Regions from separate parts of the Homo sapiens genome. Here region 2 is linked to region 1. The links come from fine-mapping of genetic effects on gene expression. Tissue or cell type: whole blood. Region 1 holds a variant in brackets; the other region holds the start of a gene. All regions are shown on one strand. Distances are from middle to middle. Region 1 overlaps PCNX3 (pecanex 3). Region 2 holds the start of RELA-DT (RELA divergent transcript).

The links. PIP is the estimated chance that this variant, and not a neighbour inherited with it, causes the effect. A credible set is the group of variants that fine-mapping cannot tell apart.
Region 2: it holds the start of RELA-DT, and the variant in region 1 is the best candidate, but not a certain one, in a credible set for the expression of RELA-DT in whole blood (INTERVAL, PIP 0.89).

Annotation. Positions count from the first base shown.
Region 1 is chr11:65,622,354-65,627,713 of GRCh38, forward strand. It overlaps PCNX3 (pecanex 3), which reads left to right. Exons shown (of 35, transcript NM_032223.4): 11 at 1-13; 12 at 1,138-1,291; 13 at 1,576-1,608; 14 at 1,842-2,013; 15 at 2,118-2,228; 16 at 2,572-2,663; 17 at 2,818-2,927; 18 at 3,052-3,157; 19 at 3,299-3,391; 20 at 3,551-3,701; 21 at 4,551-4,695; 22 at 5,052-5,229. Among named protein-coding and RNA genes, the nearest start is that of PCNX3, 9.3 kb to the left of the region's middle. The variant G/T (reference allele first, on the strand shown) is at 2,433.
Region 2 is chr11:65,660,526-65,665,885 of GRCh38, forward strand. It overlaps RELA-DT (RELA divergent transcript), which reads left to right and starts at 2,481. Exons shown (of 4, transcript NR_183625.1): 1 at 2,481-2,623; 2 at 4,921-5,018. It overlaps RELA (RELA proto-oncogene, NF-kB subunit), which reads right to left and starts at 2,391. Exons shown (of 11, transcript NM_021975.4): 1 at 2,301-2,391; 2 at 1,654-1,680; 3 at 1,412-1,563; 4 at 1,162-1,310. The coding sequence starts at 2,307. RefSeq lists silencers at 2,078-2,137, 2,198-2,607 and an enhancer at 2,698-2,897.

The DNA.
Region 1 (5,360 bases):
CTCTGCTGGACCGGTGAGTGTCCCGCAGCCTTGGCCCCCAATTCTTGGAAAGCCCCTGGACCTTGGCTCCCCAGACTCTGTACCTGTGGAGGCAGTCATGGCAGCAGAGAGCCTGACTCGGGGGAAGCTGAGGGCCTGTCGTTGGCTGGAGTCTGCAGTGGTGGTTTCTATGGTTCATTTGTGGTGTAAAGGGGTGGCCAAGTGGGTGGTGCTGTATTAAATCTGTTTATTCCAAAGTCCTGCTGAAAAAAACTTTTTTTGAGACGGAGTCTCTCTCTGTCGTCCAGGCTGGAGTGCAGTGGCATGATCTCGGCTCACTGCAAGCTCCGCCTCCCAGGTTCACGCCATTCTCCTGCCTCAGCCTCCTGAGTAGCTGGGACTACAGGTGCCCGCCACCACACCTGGCTAATTTTTGTATTTTTTTTTTTTTAGTAGAGATGGGGTTTCACAGTGTTAGCCAAGATGGTCTTGATCTCCTGACCTTGTGATCTGCCCGCCTCGGCCTCCCAAAGTGCTGGGATTACAGGCGTGAGCTACCGCGCCCGGCCATCCTATTCACTTTTTTTTTATTAGCTTCTGTTGATTTGAAAATCGAGTGCTGTAACCTAGAAAAGCTCACAGACCAGTTATCTCACTTTTCCCATTTCTCAGAGGGGACACAGAGTCCCAGAAAATCCAATAGAGAAGTCAGATGACTTCTACCCAGTGTAGAGAACTTGGGCCTAGAGCCCATGTGGCTTCCCGTCCATCTGGGTTTCTCTAGGCACAGGGACTGGGTGCTGGTCCTGTGTGCATAGCGTGGCACGCCCAAGGCAGCATGCACGATGTAGCCACGTGCAGTTAACTCAGTCTCAGCTGGGGATGGATGAATCCCGGGAGTAATGGCACCCTGAGCTCTCAGCCCTCAATGTCCAGAGCAGGCAAAGATTGGGAAGGAGAGAGCAATACAATGGTCGCTGGAGCAGGTGCTGCCGGGCCGCGTCGTCGCAAAGTTATAGGTGTTCACATCTTCAGAGGACAAGGGTCTGGCATGGGCACAGTCCCAGAGCTGGGCCTTTAGGGCAAGATCCATCTTCCCCACTGCCCCACTGGAAGGTGAGGCAAGACGGGCACGCCCTGACTAGGCTGTCCCTGCAGGACGCGGGGAGTGCTGGAGAACATCTTCGGCGTGGGCCTGAGCAGCCTTGTGGCCTTCCTGGGCTACCTGCTGCTGCTCAAGGGCTTCTTCACTGACATCTGGGTCTTCCAGTTCTGCCTGGTCATCGCCTCCTGCCAGTACTCCTTGCTGAAGGTCAGGCCGGGCTCTCTGTGTTTCCTTCCCCACCCGACTTTTCCCAAGATTGCCCTTCCCACAACTCCAGTTTTAAGGAGTATAAGCTGAAAGGTAGATAATTTGTCTAAGGTTCCCTAGAGCTGGCCAGCTCTTTTACAAGCAAGAAAACTGAGGCTCAGGACAGTTCGGGGGCCTGACCTGGTCACTCATAACTGCCTAGTGGTGGAGCTGAACAGGTCTGGGGCCTCTGACCATCCCGTGGGCATCGGCTCTAGTTGCCAACGTAGCCCTGTCTCTTCCAGAGCGTGCAGCCTGATGCGGCGTCCCCCATGCACGTGAGTACCCATGGAGCAGCGCCTCTGGCCAGGAGGCCCCGGGAGGGGCTGAGACCAGGTGGGGAGGAGGGTAGGGTATGGAGGGCTGGGGCTCCCTCACCACCCCCATCACCCCCACCTGGCCAGGCTCTCCAGCTTGGACCCAGGGCCAGGCCTGGGGCCCTTGAGTGTGTGCATGTGTCAGAGGTGTGGCCAGTCGGGGAGACCCAGCTCCTCATGGGCTGACCCCTCAGGGCCACAACTGGGTGATCGCGTACAGCCGTCCTGTCTACTTCTGCATCTGCTGTCTGCTCATCTGGCTGCTGGACGCCCTGGGCTCAGCTCAGCCCTTCCCACCTGTCTCCCTCTACGGCCTCACGCTCTTCTCTGCCTCCTTCTTCTTCTGTGCCCGAGACGTGGCCACTGGTGAGGCTGGGGCAGGGATGAGGTGGCCCAGGAGAGTGAGTCCCCGAGGGTGGGCCGCGGAAAGCCAGCAGGCTGACCAGGCCTTCGTGTCCCCTCCCTGCCAGTGTTCACCCTGTGCTTCCCCTTCGTCTTCCTCCTGGGCCTCCTGCCCCAGGTCAACACCTGCCTCATGTACCTGCTGGAGCAAATAGATATGCACGGCTTCGGGGGCACAGGTATGATGCCCACAGGTGGCTCAGGGATGGGGCCCGTGTGGAGGCCCAGGAGGGCCCTCGGATTGGGTCCTTGGCTCCACCCTTGCGGAACCTTCTCCTGCGTCTGTACTGCAGACTCAAGGTTTCTGCCTTCTCCCCTCTCCTTCCCTCCCCAGGCAAGTGGTTTATATCTGAGAATCTTGGAAGCTCTAAAGGCCGCTTGGG[G/T]CTTGGGGCAGCAGAGAACAATGGGCTGGGGGTGCCTTTCCAGGGAGGCCAGCCTCTGGGAGTTGAGGGGAAGCGCGGCTAGGGTTGAGGTGGGGTACCTGCAAGTGAGAGCTGGGCTGTACTTCTCCCTTCCACACAGCTGCCACCAGCCCGCTCACGGCAGTCTTCAGCCTCTCCCGCAGCCTGCTGGCTGCTGCCCTGCTCTACGGTTTCTGCCTTGGGGCCATCAAGGTAGGGGTGGCTTGCGAGGTGGGGGCATGCTGCAGTGCGTAAGGGTGGTTGGGGCGGGGCTGTGAACTGGGCTCAGCAGTGGCTTCTCACACGGGGGCAGCCCGGGCCCCATGCTTACCTCACCTCCCCTGACCAGCATGGATTCTCTCCGCAGACTCCGTGGCCAGAGCAGCACGTCCCTGTCCTCTTCTCAGTCTTCTGTGGCCTCCTGGTGGCACTGTCCTACCACCTGAGCCGGCAGAGCAGCGACCCCACCGTGCTCTGGTGGGTGTGCTCCGGGTCGTGTGTTTGTGTCTGCCCAGTAGGGGTTTGTGGTCTGTGCATGTGCCCGTGACTGGGGCCGGGGGGAAGGAGGGGCGGCCTCCTCCTGACTCTTCCTCACCCCCAGGTCTCTGATCCGGAGCAAGCTGTTCCCTGAGCTGGAGGAGCGCAGCTTGGAGACAGCCCGGGCCGAGCCCCCGGACCCCTTGCCGGACAAGATGCGCCAGTCGGTGGTGAGGGGGCGGGGGGTGGGGGTCTGTGGGGAGGTGGTGACAGGTCCTGGGGTTCCTGGGAGGGGCATGTCCAGCTTGGGCTGCTGGGCAGCTGAGTGTCTCTCCTGGCCGGGCAGCTGAATGTCTCTCCTGGCCCTGCAGCGTGAGGTCTTGCACTCCGACCTGGTGATGTGTGTGGTGATCGCCGTGCTCACCTTCGCCATCAGCGCCAGCACCGTCTTTATTGCCCTGAAGGTTTGTGTGGCATGGGCCGCTGCTGCCTCTCGCTGTCTTGGCGGGAGCCTGCTCAATCTGAGTGCCGTGGGCAGCCCCTCCCCGGCCTGTGCCAGGTGGCCCTCTGTGGTCCCTTGGCCTGCTCCCATCAGCTGAGTCTCTGGCCTCTCCCTCCTGCAGTCGGTGCTGGGTTTCGTGTTGTACGCACTGGCTGGGGCCGTGGGCTTCTTCACACATTACCTGCTGCCACAACTCCGCAAACAGCTGCCCTGGTTCTGCCTGTCACAGCCCGTGCTGAAGCCGCTGGAGTACAGCCAGTATGAAGTGCGCGGTGAGTGCCCACCCCTGATGGCCAGGCCTGGGCAGTGGCTCGGGCTGCAGCCTGGCTGGTGGGAGCTGTGGTCCTCTCGGCTCAGGAGTGCCAGCAGGGGGCACTCGCTGCCCACACTACCCTTTCTGCTCCCTCCCTGCCCTCTGTGTCCGTGTTGCCCGGCTGCGCTCTCCACCGACTCTTCTCCTCGTGCCCTGCTGTGCCCTTCCCTTGCCTGTGTTGCCCTGGTCCTGCCCTCCTTCCTGTCTGTGAGAAGACGGAAGAATTAGAACCCCAGGGCCCTGAAGGGATCTCTTGTCCAGAATTAAACACTGATCACCAGTGGACCAGAGCTGCCTGGAGCACATCTTCACTGGGCTGCATAATGGTTTTTAAAAAATCCTGGAGCCTCTATTTTAGCATCTCGATTTGAGATATGAAGATCCATGTTTCTTGAGTTTTTCTTAAACGACAGAAGATTTTGCTTCCCAGACTAGCATCCCTCTGTGGCTACAACCAGCCTGAACCGAGGGGTCTGCCCTTTAGAAGGGCCCAGCTCACGGGCTCACTGTGCACTCAGGCCCTAGCCAGCCTGCTGTACGTAGGTGTTTGCGATTTCATCATTGGCCTTGTTTTAACAGACAGCAGAGCAGAGCACCTGCCATAAAGCAAGCCTCGATGTGCTAAGTGCCATGTGGAGCCCTTGCCCTGCTGGGGCTCGCTGCTCCCATTTGAGCTGCCACAGATCAGCCCCTCCCCCCAGGGTCTCCGAGGAGTCAGGACCGCACAGCCTGCCCTCCTAGGGAAGGACTTCCTCAGGGAAGGCAGGCATGTGGAAGCCAGGTGCAGAGTCCTGGCCTCTCCACACAGGTGCCGCCCAGGTGATGTGGTTTGAGAAGCTGTATGCTGGCCTGCAGTGCGTAGAGAAGTACCTCATCTACCCCGCCGTGGTGCTCAACGCCCTCACGGTGGACGCCCACACAGTCGTCAGCCACCCGGACAAGTACTGCTTCTAGTGAGGACCACCCCACCCTCAACGATCCCATCATCCGCTTTCCCTTTTGATCCGTGGGGAAACTGAGGCCTAGAGAGGGAATGAATCATGTCTAAGGTTGTTTAGCAAGCTAAAGCAGGACCCCAGCTCCTGACACGCCATCCCAGGAAGTGGTTGCTTCTTCAAAGGCAAATGTGTTCCCACCACTCCCTTTGGAAGAGCAGAGACTAAGAGTCACGGGCCCAAAAGAGCAGGGACCAGCCCAGCAGAGCAGAGGCCAGGGGTTGCTCTCCGGCCAGAGTAGGCGAGGGATGGGACACCTATACCCACTGCCCCGGTCCCCTACCAAGCACCCGATGCCTGCCCCTTGCCCACAGCTGCCGGGCGCTGCTGATGACCGTGGCTGGGCTGAAGCTGCTGCGCTCAGCCTTCTGCTGCCCCCCACAGCAGTACCTGACGTTGGCCTTCACCGTCCTGCTCTTCCACTTTGACTACCCGCGCCTCTCCCAGGGCTTTCTGCTTGACTACTTCCTCATGTCCCTGCTTTGCAGCAAGGTGAGTTGGTGGCTGTGGCCCAGACCCCAGGCTGTCCAATGGGAGCAGAGCCAACTTCTGCCTGGGTGGGAAGAGAATTTCCTGAGGGCCTGTGGCCACCGCTCTGTATCAGCCCCGTGGGCCTTTGCAGC
Region 2 (5,360 bases), 38 kb after region 1:
ATGTTCTTTTCCTACTTCTCTCCTCCTTCTCACCATTCAAGTCTTAGCTGAGGGAGGCCTTCCCTGACCTCCCAATCTAAAGTCATCACACACCAGCTCCCCTAACTCCCCCACCCCAGGTTATCCTTCTATCCTATGACCTCGTTTTATTTTCAGGACTGAAACTGTTACTCTGACAGCACCTTGTTTATTTATCTGTGTATTTATTTATTTTTAAGAGACACAGTGTCGGGCCGGGTGCGGTGGCTCAAGCCTGTAATCCCAGCACTTTGGGAGGCCAAGACAGGCAGATCACAAGGTCAGGAGATTGAGACCATCCTGGCTAACACGGTGAAACCCTGTCTCTACTAAAAAATACAAAAAATTAGCCAGGCGTGGTGGCAGGCACCTGTAGTCCCAGCTATTCGGGAAGCTGAGGCAGGAGAATGGCATGAACCCGGAAGGTGGAGGTTGCAGTGAGCTGAGATCGCGCCACTGCACTCCAGTCTGGGGACAGAGCAAGACTCTTTCTTAAAAAAAAAAAAAAAAAAAAAAAGACAAGGTATCGCCCTGCCACCCAAGTGCAGTGGTGCAATCATAGCTTGCCGCAGCAGTGACCTCCTGGGCTCAGGCGATCCTCCCACCTCAGCCTCCCTGGGACTATAGGCGCATGCCACCATACCCAGCTAATTTCTTATTTTTTGTAGACATGGGGTCTCACTATGTTGCCTTGGCTAGTCTTGAATTCCTAGGCTCAAGAGATCTTCCTGCCTTGGCCTCCCGAAGTGCTAGGATTATAAGCATGAGCCACTATGCCCGGCCTGTATATTTTTTTACAGCCTGTCTCTGTCAACTGCAATGTCAACTCCAGGGGAGAGTGCTGGTTCAATGGTTTTCTTCCTCAAACAAGAGACGTGACTCTGAGGGACTTGTCCTTCCAGCTACAGGGGTCAGGAATTCAGAAGTGATTAGGGACCCATCCGTATCCCCTGGAACTCATCTGCTAGAGTAAACGTACAAATAGATAATTTCAAGACAAAGGCAGTTTACTTGCAGAGCTGAGTCAGGGCAAGGAGTGAGGAATTCTGCCCTGGGTCCAGAAAGGAGTAACACTGTAGCGGCTACTTCATAGCCCGCCTCCTGTCCCCTCATGCTGGGCCTCCTAGCCTGCAGGGACCTCACCTGTGGATGCAGCGGTCCGGGCAGAGCTCAGCCTCATAGAAGCCATCCCGGCAGTCCTTTCCTACAAGCTCGTGGGGGTGAGGCCGGTGAGGAGGGTCCTTGGTGACCAGGGAGATGCGCACTGTCCCTGGTCCTGTGTAGCCATTGATCTGTCCAAAGTACAGAGGCCCAGACATCCAAACCTGACTCCCAAACACAGAGGGCTGGGGTTCCACAGTCCCTTCCCCGCACACCCTGGCGCAGTGCTGACCTTGATGGTGGGGTGGGTCTTGGTGGTATCTGTGCTCCTCTCGCCTGGGATGCTGCCCGCGGAGCGCCCCTCGCACTTGTAGCGGAAGCGCATGCCCCGCTGCTTGGGCTGCTCAATGATCTCCACATAGGGGCCAGAGGCCTGGGCTGGCTCTGCCAGGGGACACCGCAGCCCCATTAGGCGGCTGCCCCCACTGCCCTACCCCAGGGAGCACCTCCCCGACCGCCGCGGGGGCCACTTACCTGCCGGGAAGATGAGGGGGAACAGTTCTGAAAGGGGAGGGAGATCAGGGTCAGCACACACCCAATGCCCATTCTCACAAGGAGGAATCTGCTCTCCACGGAGAGGAGAAGCCAGGCTCCCTCCCAGGGGAACTGAGTCAGGACCTGCTCCCTAGAACCTGCGGTGAAACTAAGGGGTGGAGGAAAGGAACCAGAAACACCTGCTTCTTGAGGGAAAACGGGGTAAGGAATCCTTCTTCTCCAGAGGGAAGCTGAATCAGGGCCTGTTGTACTTTCTTAAGGAAAATTGAGGGAGGGCACGCCCCACCTCCCTCCAGAGAGGAAACTGAATCAGATGCGTTCTCCCCTAATAGGGAAACGAAGCCAGAGCTGCCCCCATGGACGGTGTGGAGGGAAACTGAGTCAAGGTTCCCTCTGCTCCCCCACCCAGGGAGGATGCTGAGTCAAGGGCCACCCCCTCCACCCAGAGGGGAAACTGAGTCAGACCCCTCCCCGCCTGCCCCGCCCCGCGCCACCATCCGGCAGGCCGACCGCTCCCTGCGCAGCGCCCGTCGGCGCAGGAAGGGGCGGAAAGCGGCGCGGGGGCTCCCGCCACAGCCGCGGCGGCCCCGGCGATGCCACCCCGCGGGGTCAGAGGGCGACCTCACCGTCCATGGCCGGGGTCCCGGGGGCGGGGCCGGGGTCGCAGCTGGGCCCGCGGCGTGCACTACAGACGAGCCATTCGCCAGAGGCGGAAATGCGCCGCGCGGCCCGCCGTCGCGTCACTGCCCGGAATCCGGCCGCGCCTGCGCGCTGCCCCGCCGCCGCCCGGCGCAGGGGCCGGGAGCAAGTGCACGCCGCGCGGAGGACGAAGAGGCTGCACGCACAGCCGCTGCCGGGGGTCGGGGCCAAGTGCGCGCCTCGCCGAGGACGAAGAGGCTGGCGTGCCCGGTGGCTCGGCTAGCTCCCGGGTCCCGGCCCCGCCTGGAGGGTGGGTCCGCCGATTACTCACTTTGTTTTTAGGGGATTTCAGGGCCCCCTCCCGCCGATCGGCGGAGTTTGGTGATGTCACTCTGGGCCGGGTCTGGAGCAAAGCCAGGGCTACTGGGCTGCGGCCGCCCGCCCCGCGCAGGGAAAAGCCCGACCGGGCCTTCTGCTCCGCAGAGGCCGGGTGGTTGAACTCCGCGCGGGTTTCCTAACCGCTAAAGGTGCCTTTCGGTGGTGGCTGTCTCAGAAGCACGTTAAAATGTCCTACCCACCCCAATCTAGATGCGGCTGTGGGGGAATGGGAGCGGCCGGACCTCCCAGCCTGACAGTGCATCAAGAGCTTTGCGGAGCCTACAGCCCGGATGGGACGACTGAGGCCCTCCCGCTGGCGAGCTGGCCGAGGGCTCGTCCCTCTCCAGCTAAAGCGCCAGCTTACGATACAGCCAAACTGCCGGCTCTCATCGGCTGTGGGAGCAGGAGGCCCCCAGGGGTAAATCCCGGAGCCTCGTCTCTGAAGCCTGGCGCTTGTGTCTCAGAAGGTGCGGGACCCACAGGGACACTTGAATCAGCAGGCTCACGACCCCCCACCCCCCTGCCCCCGCCTGTGTTTGCCCTGGACCTCCAGCTAGGGCTGACCACTAATTCTGTCATGTGACCCCACAGTGCAGGTAGCTCCCCCAAGACCAAGCCCAAGGCGCGTCCGTGTGGAGGCTGGGGCTGACGCACCCCCACCCCAGGCCTCATCCCCAAAGGAGGATGCTCCACTGCAGGGGGCGGAGTCTTCTCCAGATGGAGAAAGACTTTTTTATTTTCTCTGAATTCGTCTTAAATTAGGAAATCATGTGGGAATTGGAAAAGATTGGAAATTCTGACTTGTTTCCCAGGCTCTGAAGAAACAGGAAGAGAAAAGTGAAAATAGAGTTAGCACCCCGCCCACTCATTTCAGTTTCTCCAGTGGCTGGCCCTGATTAGAAAAGTGTTTACTTTTGGCAGGGGGCGGGGGAGGCCGACTTCAGGTGACAGAATGGATTAATTAAAATCTTTGGTTAATGATATACAATTATCATTGAACCTTGCATGGATCCTCTTCTTAAAATTCATGTATATTTATAACTTTTAAATTAATACGATAAACACCCATGTACCCATTGCAAAACTCAAGGGGCCACCACCATCCAGAATTCTGTATTGTATTGTATTGTATTGTATTGTATTGTATTGTATTGTATTGTATTTATTTATTTATTTATTTTTTGAGACACGGTCTGTCTCTGTCGCCCAGGCTGGAGTGCAGTGGCACAATCTCTGCTCACTGCAGCCTCTACCTCCTGGGCTCAAGCAATCCTCCCACTTCAGCCTCTTGCATAGCTGGGACTACGGGAGCACACCACCATGCCCGGCTAAGTTTTTGTATTTTTTGTAAAGAAGTGGTTTAACCTTGTTGTCCAGGCTAGTCTTGAACTCCTGAGCTCAACTTTCCTCCCCGCTTGGCCTCACAAAGTGCTGGGATTACAGGCGTGAGCCACCACGCTGGGCCAGAATTCTGTATTTTTTAAATTAATTAATTAATTAATTTATTGTAAATAGAGATGGGTCTCACTGTGTTGCCCAGGCTGGTCTCAAACTCCTGGGCTCAAGCGATCCTCCCACCTCAGCCTCCCAAAGTGGGATTACAGGCATGAGCCACCACACCTGGCCCAGAATTCTGTATTTTAAAGAAAAAAAAAGTTATATCTGCATGCCTACACAATATATCTTTTGGTTTTCCTTAGTTTTGAACTTTTTTTTTTTTTTTTTTGAGACAAAGTCTCACTCTGTCGCGCAGGCTGGAATGCAGTGGCATTCTGCTTACTGCAACCTCTGCCTCCTAGGTTCAAGCGATTCTCCTGCCTCAGCCTCCTGAGTAGCTGGGATTAAAGGGGCCAACCACCACGCCCAGCTAATTTTTGTATTTTTTTAGTAGAGACGGGGTTTCACCATGTTGGCCAGGCTGGTCTCGAACTCCTGACCTCAGGTGATTCGCCAGCCTCTGCCTCCCAAAGTGCTGAGATTACAGGTGTGAGCCACCGCACCCAGCCAGTTTTGAACTTTTATGAAGAGGGCATCATATGATTTGTTGTCCTTTGTTACTTGCTTTTTTCACTCAACCTGTTACTATGATTCATGTTTCACAGTTAATTCACTTTTTCACTGCTGTATACTATTTTGTTGTGTAAATATACCACAGTTTGTTTATTCATCCTGAAGATAGGCATTTTTATTTTTATTTTTTTGAGATGGAGTTCCTCTCTTGTGGCCCAGGCTGGAGTGCAATAGCACCATCTCGGCTCACTGCAACCTCTGCCTCCCAGGTTCAAGTGATTCTCCTGCCTTAGCCTCCTGAGTAGCTAGGATTACAGGTATGCATCACCATGCCCGGCTAATTTTGTATTTTTTTTTTCTTTTGAGACAGAGTTTCGCTCTTGTTGTGTGCAATGGCACAATCTCGGCTCACAGCAACCTCTGCCTCCCAGGTTCAAGTGATTCTCCTGCCTCAGCCACCTGAGTAGCTGGGATTACAGGTGCCTGCCACCATGCCTGGCTAACTTTTTGTATTTTTAGTAGAGACGGGGTTTCACCATGTTGGCCAGGCTGGTCTCAAACTCCTGACCTTAGGTGATCCACCTGCCTCAGCCTCTGAAAATGTTGGGATTACAGGCATGAACCACTGCATCTGACTAATTTTGTACTTTTAGTAGAGA